Linked DNA regions of Homo sapiens: region 1 is linked to region 2. Evidence: fine-mapped expression QTL. Tissue or cell type: whole blood. Region 2 holds a variant in brackets; the other region holds the start of a gene. All regions are shown on one strand. Distances are between the middles of the regions. Region 1 holds the start of CACNA1E (calcium voltage-gated channel subunit alpha1 E). Region 2 overlaps CACNA1E (calcium voltage-gated channel subunit alpha1 E).

What was found. PIP is the estimated chance that this variant, and not a neighbour inherited with it, causes the effect.
Region 1: CACNA1E starts here. The variant in region 2 is fine-mapped to the expression of CACNA1E in whole blood (TOPMed, PIP above 0.99).

Annotation. Positions count from the first base shown.
Region 1 is chr1:181,480,878-181,486,247 of GRCh38, forward strand. It overlaps CACNA1E (calcium voltage-gated channel subunit alpha1 E), which reads left to right and starts at 2,640. Exons shown (of 48, transcript NM_001205293.3): 1 at 2,640-3,133. The coding sequence starts at 2,868. RefSeq lists enhancers at 831-1,363, 1,415-1,544, 2,347-2,871, 2,872-3,395, 4,358-4,487 and silencers at 1,695-1,824, 1,865-1,994.
Region 2 is chr1:181,550,014-181,555,383 of GRCh38, forward strand. The region is part of intron 3 of CACNA1E (calcium voltage-gated channel subunit alpha1 E); the gene reads left to right. Among named protein-coding and RNA genes, the nearest start is that of CACNA1E, 69 kb to the left of the region's middle. The variant A/G (reference allele first, on the strand shown) is at 2,234.

The DNA.
Region 1 (5,370 bases), 69 kb before region 2:
GCCTGGCACCTGGAAGGGACTCAAAGATACTTCTCTAATGATTTGAATGAATTTTGTGCTATGGATTATGGTACTGTCTGAAAGGAGCGACATACACTTAATAATTTCTGAAAGCCCTTTTTCTAACCCTATGTAGTTTACAGGGATACCGAGATAGCCACTTGGGACTAGTTCTAAGTGACTGGCTGATGGGACTTCATGGTTCACAGCACCACCCTCCCTCCGTTTCACGACTGACTAGGTATTCAGACAGAAGAGGACCCTCTGATTAAAGCAGGAGGAAGGACAGAGTAAGGCAGTAATGTGAAATCAAAGTAACAATTACAGCTGACTCACCTTGAATAGTAATTTCACCTGAAATGGGCTCCCCTGAATCCAAAGGTCAAATGCCTTCCCCAAGGGCAGCAGGCTGGACATGTTGAGACCATTCCTTTGGATTTCCAGTAGAGAATTTTCCTACACACACACACACACACACACACACACACACACACTCTCACATACATTCTCACACAACAGACACATGTCAGTGCTCACAGGGCCTTGCCCACAGACAGACACATACCCGTAGAAACACACATGCCATGCACTCAGACATCACCTCACTTCTCAACAGTTAATCTCACTTCACAGGCGTGAAGCCATACTCACCCATGGTTTCCAACCTCTGGGCTTTGGTCAGTGTCTGTTTCCTTCCTCAGCCCCTCCTTTCCTTCTTCCCTTCCATTGTTCGGGTTGGAAGGATTTGGAGAGGCCTATGTGTTGAGCCAAGGCAGGAAAACACAGAAGACGGTGTGCCCCAGCTAGTGTGGACATGGGAGGGGACAGCTGGTCCCTGCCCTCAGTTCAAACCACCAGTCACCTGTGGGGAAGGGCTTGGCGGCTAAACAGGAGCTCTTTCCCTGGGGCTTGGAGTCCACCTTTCCCACCTCTGCAGCTCAGATACCAATTCTATTTTTTTTTTTTTCTACATTAATGGGTTGGGTTTGAGAAAGTCCGTGGAGCTTATTTGGGAGTAAAGGATGGGGGGCGGGAGGATCCTTCTGATTGTTCGCATTTCGAGAAGGGTAGTTTTAGCCCATAACTCACCATGGAGGGCCCTTCCAGGAGACGTCGGGCAGGGCTTTCCTACAGCGGAACCGGGAGGCCGCCCCGTGAGGGCAGAAGCTCCCGCCAGGAGCCAGCACCACCAGCAGAGTGTGGAACCCCCAGAGGTCCTAGCCTCCTCCACGGGGCCTCCCAGGTGCTAAGTGGGGAGATGGGGAGAGGGTTCTGCCCTCTACTTGGAAATGCCTGGCCGTGTTCGTGGAGCCTGGGAGGTGCGGAGGAGCGGCGACGCGGCCATGGCGCTAGGCGCGCAAAGGCCCCGACACCTTACTAGGGCGGCGGCGGGCCCGTGGCACCGCTCCCGGCACCGAACAGGGCACAGCACTGGGGACACCTCTCTGCAGGGACCCAAGACGCGCGTGCGTGTGCGCCCCACGCCAGGCCCTCGCTCTCTTGCGGAGACTCCGCCGCATCGCTGGCTGCACCTGCCTCTCTCTTCTCGGCATTACTTGGGGGAAAGGGGACTCTTCACTGGACCTTTGCAGAGGTGGCTGCTACCCTTTGGCCACATAAATCAAGAAGGCAAGCCAGCCTCACCTTCCAGGAACCTCCAGCCTTCCGGCTGCGTCCCCGCCCCTCCCGCCTGGCCAGCTCCTCCCCCGCTTCTCCCAGCGCTCTTGCGCGCCTCGCTGCGCCTCTGCGCGCCGCTCGCTGTCCTCTGCCTCGCCTCCCCATTCTCCTTCCGCATCTTCTCCAGTGCTCCGCCGAGGGCGCTGCCTGCGGGGAAGAGGGAGACTGAGCCGTTAGTGAGGAAGTTCGGTCTGTGGACAAGTGTGGTGCCAGGCCGCCGCGAGGCTCGGCTGCAACCTGTTCCTCGCCCGCCGGTGCTCGCCGCCCGCCCGCTCGCACTCCCGCCCTCTCGGCGGCGCAGCCGCGGATCGCTGTTGCATGCTGATCCGGGGAGGCGGCGGTGGCGAGCGCTCCGGGCGGATGCTGGCACTCAGGCTTCGCTGCTCTCTGGATGCTGCTCAACTTCTAGCCCAAGCGCAGGAGCTTTGAAGTCATTTGTCCCTTTTCGCTTGGATCGACTTCTTATTTTGAGATTTTGGGCATTGCGGTTTACGCAGGAACCTCAATATCGCTCTCCCCACCTCCCTCCCTCTTTCTCCAACCTTTGGATGCGTCTCTGCTGGCAGATATAAAGACCCAAGTCTTCGCGGTGGAATTTCTTAGATGGACTTGCAGGGGCTGGCGTTATAAAGCATGTCATCGTAACCCCGTCCTCGTCTTTGTTTATTTTTTTTTAAAGTTCTTTTGTTTTCATTTTCCCCTCCTTCCCACCCCTTCCCCCAACCAATAAATCACCAAACTGTTACCTAGCGGGCCGGTGCCTGCCTCTCTCCCTGAACTAGGTGGTGCGTCTGCCAGAAGAGGAGCTATGTTTGAAGAGCAGCCTACTCCACCCCTCTCCTCTCTGGTCCCTGAACACCACCACACACTGGCATTTTGAAAAAAATATTTTCCTCCAGAAACTGGGCACCCCCAAGCCCTACCACCCGCTTTTTTTTTCTTTTTTCTTTTTTTTTTTTTTCCTTCTTGAGGAATGGAGCTTCGCAGAGGTTGCATTTAGATTCAACAGTTCACAGCGGCGGGCTGCTGCTGCTGCCTCTCCGAAGAGCTCGCGGAGCTCCCCAGAGGCGGTGGTCCCCGTGCTTGTCTGGATGCGGCTCTGAGTCTCCGTGTGTCTTTCTGCTTGTTGCTGTGTGCGGGTGTTCGGCCGCGATCACCTTTGTGTGTCTTCTGTCTGTTTAAACCTCAGGATGGCTCGCTTCGGGGAGGCGGTGGTCGCCAGGCCAGGGTCCGGCGATGGAGACTCGGACCAGAGCAGGAACCGGCAAGGAACCCCCGTGCCGGCCTCGGGGCAGGCGGCCGCCTACAAGCAGACGAAAGCACAGAGGGCGCGGACTATGGCTTTGTACAACCCCATTCCCGTCCGGCAGAACTGTTTCACCGTCAACAGATCCCTGTTCATCTTCGGAGAAGATAACATTGTCAGGAAATATGCCAAGAAGCTCATCGATTGGCCATATCCTTTCTTGCCCACCATAACTCCCTCTCCCCCTTTGCATTTCTTCGGGTGAAGGGGGGTACCTAGCATGGAATGTATCCCCCACCCCTTCCTGGTGCCAATTTGCCCCTTTGCTGAAGCACACTCTTCGGTGCATCTAAGGGGCAAGCTTGGTGCCGTGGAGACCCGTTTGGGCACTAGTGTTTTTCAAGGTAAGACTTTTGGTTTTTTATTTTTCCTATGTGGAAATCTTTAGTGTCCCTGGGTGCATCCCTTTCTGGGCTGGGCTTTGTCTGATTCCCAGCCCCCTCCCCACCCCTACTCCCTTCACATGCCGCCCTCTACATAGATTGGGTTGCCCCAATGCTTCCTTTCATAATTAATTCTCATTTTCCTTTCTTTAAGCCAGCCACTCTGCCCGTATCCCCACCAACCAGGAGACACCGCACTGTCTTCCTGTAGGGAAGTCAAGGCTCCATGAGGGGATTTATCAGTTCAGAAGTTCCCAGGGCCAAAACCCTGTGTACAGATAGACAAATGAATAAATAAAACAGGCTTTTGGGTGGGGACTCAGCTAACTCTAGGGACTTAAGTTTAAGTTCCACTGAAAGTGGCATGAGTGAGTGTCTGTCAGGGGAGGTGATCTCTGTTGCCACAGCCCAAGGAGCTCAAACTTGGAGTTCTCCTCTCAGCCAAGAAAGAGCAGCTCATCAGGCCCATCCTGTCCTTGGTCCTTGGTTGGGTACTCTTGCTTCTTAGTGCTTGACCCAGCTGATTGCTCTCCCAGTATCCAGGATCCAGGTGGATCGGCTGGGCCTGAATTCATCCGCTGAGGCCAGAGGTGTGCATGCAGTCTCTCTCTCCCTAGCTCCAAAGGAACTGCTCTCCCCAAAGCACTGGTGGGGGCCATCTCTGATGGTGGTGGTGTCAGGGTGAACAGGCATGGAAGGAGCTTCTTTGCAGGTTTAATCAAGTGCACCAAATGCAGACTGCTGATTAGGCAGCTCACTGCCTTGTTCTTCACTAAGGATTGGACGCCTGGCAAGGCCATTGGGAATTGGGGGTGGTGAGGCAGTGAAGGGGATTAGTAGGAGGCAAGCTAGTGGTCTGGCGTTAAATATGGGGATGGGGTTGGAGACATGGGACTTTGGGAGGGAGATTTGGGAGGGATGCATCTGCAATGGAGGCCCCTTCTTTTCTCCCCTATTCTCCCTCTTTCCCACCCCCACCGTCCAGGTGTGCAGCAGTGAGGCAGCTGGAGCTGCCTTGGGTCTCTAGTATTAGCCAGACACGCGGCTCATTTCCCCCAGGGCCTGGGCATCTCCCTACTCCCCCAACCCCAGTCTCTGGCCTTCCCCTTCTTCTCTAGTTCCCTGCCTCAGCAGCTCGGTGATTGGCTGGCGCGTGGTGCTTCTAGGCAGCACCCCCTCATTAGAAACGAAGGAGCATCTCTAAGCAGATATTCTTCCTGCTGCTGTTCGCATCCTCCCACAGCAACCCCGGCTGGGCTTCTCCCTCTCTCCTCTCTGCATCCCGCTCCCCTGCTCCACTCTCACAGAGTGATCCCAGGCCATCCATTGCCTGAGTTGAACGTATCTAGCTAGGGTGGAGGTTTCGGGCGGGGGAGGGGTCGGGTCCCTGCAGTCACGCCTGCCGGTGCGCTGCACAAAGCGGACAGATCTCATTGTGTTGTGTGCTGCGGCTGCAAATATTCCTCTAGGCAGTCTACGGATTTCCCAGCTGGGCCCTCCTTTCTCACTCGGCTTCTACGGTTCTCTAAATCTTCCCATCCACCAGGTGCTGCCTTGCTGTGCCCCTCTCTTAGGGGCGTGTTTATTCAGACAGGCGCCCTCCCGTTTCTTTGCGGTAGACAAAGCCGCCCAACCGCCCCGCGGGTGGCAAAGTGTGCCAGCAGCCATCGTTGGCACCTCGGACAGCGCCGCTGAAACTCCCGGCGGCCCGGGGCTCCCCAGTTACCCGGGTTCAGCACCTCGGGTACTTCTGGCCGGGCCCAGCCTTGGAGCTGAGAAACCAGGCACGTTTCCTACACCACGTGGTCACCTTTTTTCACGTTTTCTCTTCCGCTGCAAAGACACCGCCTTTCCACCAGGCGTTGCGAGCGCGCAAGGTGCGGCTGTGAGTCTTACTCCTCCCTTTCCTTGTCTTTGGCCAAAAATGGACCAAAGAGAGTCAAACGGGAGACTCTCGAGGGAGTTGATTTCAGCATCATGCTCAGTGCCTTGGCCCCGAGCCCT
Region 2 (5,370 bases):
TTGCCATGGTGGTACATGTGTGTGTTGGGGGTAATTAGGGAGGAAGGGGTGAGGCTGAGCTAGGATGACTAGTTAGGACACCATCTTTACTGTCTAGAATATACTGAGGGCTGTGACCTGGGCTGTGTCAGTGGGACCAGAGGAGGGGACAGATACAAAAAATACTTAGGGGTCTTTAAACTTGGGGGATGAGAGGGAAGAATCCAAGATGAATCCCAAGTGTAGGGGAGGGTGGCTTTTTTCACCCTGGATGAGGAGCAGTCTGGTATGGAGAGGGGATGAGGGTGGCTCTGGCTTTGGCGGTTGGGTGTGTCTTTTGGACTGGGTGTGGTGCCCTATAGAAAGGCTGGAGCTTGGGACAGGTCTGTGTGGACACCTCGATTCATCACTGCATGGTTGGTAGTTGAAACCATAGACATGGGTCAGATTGTCCCAGTGAAATGGCAGAGAAGAGGGCAAGGACAGACTCCAAGAGGCCCTGAATCAAATGGGTATGGAAAATATGGAGGGCCTGGGATGGAGGCTGAGAGGGAGCTGGCAGGAGGGGTGGGGGCAGATTGGTTGAGACCATTAGCAGGGAAATGAGGGAGAAAGAGTTTCCAGAAGGGAATGGTTACCAGGTTCAAATGTGAGGGAGGAATTCACTGCTGGCATTTGTTTGAGAAGCCCTGACCTTTTTCTGTTCCCTTGCTAGAAATAAATGCTTTTTTTTTTTGGTAGCAGACAGTAATGTACTGGAATGGAATCATGATTGTTCCGTGTCTCAGAATCCATATGTAAAGTCCCTTGTCAGATAGCAGGGAAACAGTCATCTTTGGGCAGTTTGTACTGAGAGGGAGGGGAGGCCGAGTGTAAAGGATCGGTGCCTTAATTTTAGCAAGGCTCTGAGCCCCTTGGAAGGCAAGCTTTATTTCTACATAGATTGAAAGTATTATTATTATTACATCCTTACGCTGTATCAGCGCCAAACACTGGAGTCCTCAATACTGTATTTATTTCTCTGGGCTTTTGGAGGGGTGGGGAAGAAACGGGACATTTAGGTTGCTAAGTGATTGTGCTTGCTTCTAAAAATAATGAGATTCCCCAGTGGCTCGTTCTCCTGTGTTTTGCTTAGAGTTAGAGGATGCCAAGGTCAAGTTATAGATGACAGGCTGTGTCTCCAGGTGGTGTCAGGGCATCCTGTTGGGGAAGGACAAGGTAAACTCTCCCTCTCTGGTCCTCCCACCTGCATCCCCTTAGGGCCCACTACTTTGGGAAATTGCAGGAAAAACTGGGCCTCCCCCTGCTTGGATTGAAGAGCCTCGCCTAGGCAGTCAGACTCAGTGGTTGCCATGGTGATGGTGGGTGGTTGGTGGGGTGGTGATGCAGCGTTTGGCCTGTGCAGCTGAGGTCCTCAATGCAGGCTGCTTGGAGCCCAGGCTGCTGAAGCTTTTGACAGTTTGTTTAGGATTCCAGAGGGTCACTTGCTGCGGTGTTGAAATCTTCAGACAGACCCGCCAGCTCAGCCAGCTGAAACCTTCATTGTTGAATATGCATCTCACAGGCCAAATTTTGGCAGGCGCTCATGGGATTAGGAGCTCCACAGCAACCTTGGTGGGGGAAGGGGTGTGCGAAAAAGCTCTGTGCAGGGGAGAGTGGCTGGGATAATAGACTCTGAGGACAACAGAAGGCCAGAGGCCCTTCAGATCGTCCAGTTCATCAACACCTTCAACAACATCCCTGACAGCTGGTCACCAAGCTTCTGCTTGGACTCTCCTTGTGATGGGGAGCTCACTACCGGGCAAGGCACACCACTCCATTGTTGAATAGGTTTTACATTTTCTCCTCTCTCCCTCACTTCTTTCGTTCCTCCCTCATTCTCTCCATCTTTCCTTCCCCCCTCCTTTCCTTGCATCCTTTCATTTTTTTGGCAAAATTCTGGCCCCTTCTAATTTGATTCACTGACTCAAGTTATGCCAAGAAGGAAAGCAGTGTAAGCTTTCATCAAAGTGACAACCACTTGCCACCCAACAAAACATTCATACTTTTCTCAGCTACTTCTGACATTATTTCAAGACCCCTTGTTATTTCCCCATCCCCTATATTTCTCCATATTGCTCTTAAAATATAACACCCAGAATGAACCACAGTACTCGACTGGTCTGACCAATGCAGAGGACTTTAGGGTGACACCCATGTTTGTGAACAGTCTGAGATGATTTTGTAGCCCCCTCCTCACACCCTTGGCTGATAC[A/G]AAGGCTGTGATTCTCTGTCGTTCCCAGATCTTTTACATATGAGCAGCTGATGCTGGGCTCTACATTTGTACTTTTTTGATTTTGTCATCTAAGCTGTTGAGAAACACGTTGAAATGGACAGAAATGATGATGGAATGCCGTGGCAAAACTCTAGAGGCCTCCCTGCAGGTGGAAATTATAATAGTATTCATAGCTTTTTTTTTCTGTTTTTATATCCAACTATCTACTTGTCTAACCAATTAATCACTGATCTTTTTTTTTTTCCTTAGAGTGTTCCATTCCATTGTATGGATGTGCTACAGTTTGTTTATTTATTCAGCAATGGAAGGACATTTGATGTTTTCCAGTTTGGGGTGATTATGAATAAAGCTGCTCTAAACATTTTTTAAAATCATTATATATTTATTATTTTACTTTAAGTTCTGGGATACATGTGCAGAACGTGCAGGTTTGTTACATAGGTATACGTGTGCCATGGTGGCTTGCTGCACCTATTGACCCATCCTCTAAATTCCCTCCCCTCGCCCCCACCCCCTAACAGGCCCCTTTGCAGGGACATGGATATTTTGGTGTTATTTCTGAGGTCTCTGTTCTGTTCCATTGGTCTGTATATCTGTTTCGATACCCAGTACCATGGTGTTTCGGTTACTGTAGCCTTGTAGTATAGTTTGAAATCAGGTAGCATGATGCCTCCAGCTTTGTTCTTTTTGCTTAGGATTGTCTTGGCTATACAGGGTCTTCTTTAATTCCATATGAAATTTAAAGTAGTTTTTTTCTAATTCTGTGAAGAATGTCAATGGTATAGCATTGGGAATAGCATTGAATCTAGAAATTACTTTGGGCAGTATGGCCATTTTTACGATATTGATTCTTCCTATCCATGAAGATGGAATGTTTTTTCCATTTGTTCGTGTACTTTCTTATTTCCTTGAGCAGTGGTTTGTAGTTCTCCTTGAAGAGGTCCTTCACATCCCTTGTTAGCTGTATTCCTAGGTATCTTATTCTTTTTGTAGCGATTGTGAATTGGGAGTTCATTCATGATTCGGCTCTCTGCTTGTCTATTATTGGTGTATAGGAATGCTTGTGATTTTTGCACATTGATTTTGTATTCTGAGACTTTACTGAAGTTGCTTATCAGTTTAAGGAGTTTTTGGGCTGCGATGATGGGGTTTTCTAAATATACAATTATGTCATCTGCAAACAGAGACAACTTGGCTTCCTCTCTTCCTATGTGAATACCCTTTATTTCTTTCTCTTGCCTGATTGCCCTGGCCAGAACTTCCAATACTATGTTGAATAGGAGTAGTGAGAGAGAGCATCCTTGTCTCGTGCCAGTTTTCAAAGGGAATGCTTCCAGTTTTTGCCCATTCAGTGTGATATTGGCTATGGGTTTGACATAAATAGCTCTTATTATTTTGAGATGCGTTCCATCAATACCTAGTTTATTGAGAGTTTTTAGCATGAAGGGATGTAGAATTTATCAAAGGCCTTTTCTGCATCTATTGAGATAATCATGTGGTTTTTGTCATTGGTTCTGTTTTTGTGATGGATTATGTTTATTCATTTGCGTATGTTGAACCAGCCTGGCATCCCAGGGATAAAGCCGACTTGATCGTGGTGGATAAGTTTTTTGATATAGTCACTGGTATTTTGAGGTGATTGCTATCATTATCATGATCTTACTAATAAGAAAGCAGAGCCACAGAGAGGTAAAATAAGTTGCTCAAGGTCACACAGGCTCTAAATAGCAAAGTCAGTATTTGAATTTAGTGTTTTTTGTTGAGCTAGGGTTTCACTCTGTCATGCAGGCTGGAGTGCAGTGGTGAGATCACAGCCCACTGCAGCCTTGACCTCCTGGACTCCAGGGATCCACCCCAGCCTCCCTAGTAGCTGGGAATACAGGCACATTCCACTATGCCCAGCTAATTTTTTTAGTTTTATTTCTTGTATAGATGAGGTTTTGCCATGTTGCCCAGGCTGGTCTCGAACTCCTGAGCTCAAGTGATCCTCTCACCTCCGCTTCCCAAAGTGCTTGGGATTAAAGATGTGAGCCACTGCGCCCAGCCTGAATTTAGTTGTTATTCAGTAATCCATATAATTTGGGAATGATTGTTCAAATGGCACAGACTCTGACAGGGGTTCAATCTACCATTGTGTCAGTGTAGCAGATGAGATTTTTGTCAAGGGGCTTGCTGAAATCCAGGGTACCATATCTTTAGCATTTTCCTAGTCTGTTTGTCCAATAACCCTGTTTAAAAAAAGAAACAAGATTAGCTTGGATCGGTTTATTCCAAGAAATCTCATGCTAATTCCTAATAATAAGAAACAATGCCAATAGTGATACTAATGGTCCTCACATTTGCTGAGTCCCAGCCTGTGCCAGGCACTGAGCTAAGCTTGTCCCATGCACTGTTTGATCATCCTGCTTTCTCGTTGCTCACACACTGTGTACTGACGTACGGCTGAATTCTCCTGGGATTGACAATGAGCTTACTGGTTATCACTGTAGAGTCTTCTGTTTGGAATCAAGACATTTGCTCAGGTTTTAAGGCCTCTGTTTTTATCCCCAGTTTCTCACAAGCTGCTTGTTTGGATGTCTTATCAGTGCTGGATCTAAGTGAGCATTTAATTTGGAGCTGCAGGCTGGGTTCAAGTCTGGCTCTATGACAGCTTTTTATCAATGAGACCAACAGCAAATCACTCAACCTTGAGCTTTGGTCTTCTCCTCTTCCAAATGGAGATTATAATCCCTATGCAGAGTATTTCCACAGATGCTGAGATGCTCATACAGGAGAATGTTTGTGTAAAAGTGCTTCTCAGACTTCAGTTGCAGACACACTTGAGCCATTTTTGTTATTTAAAATGGTTAAGTGTTCCTACTAGTATTATCTCCTATCCAAGTTTCACTTTTAACAGAATTTATCCTCCCCCTTTTAGATTTTTAAAAAATATTCATAAGACACTCAGAGGTATGACTGAATGTTGGTCACTAGACCCAGAAAGGGGTATACCTACCAGCTCTTGCCCACTGAGTTGTGCTTGAGGTGGAAGAAACAGAATTGCAGACTCCAGGAGGAAAAGGTATGCTTCTAGAGGTCTTTCATCTAGAGCGAATCTTTCCCACCTTCTCCTAATC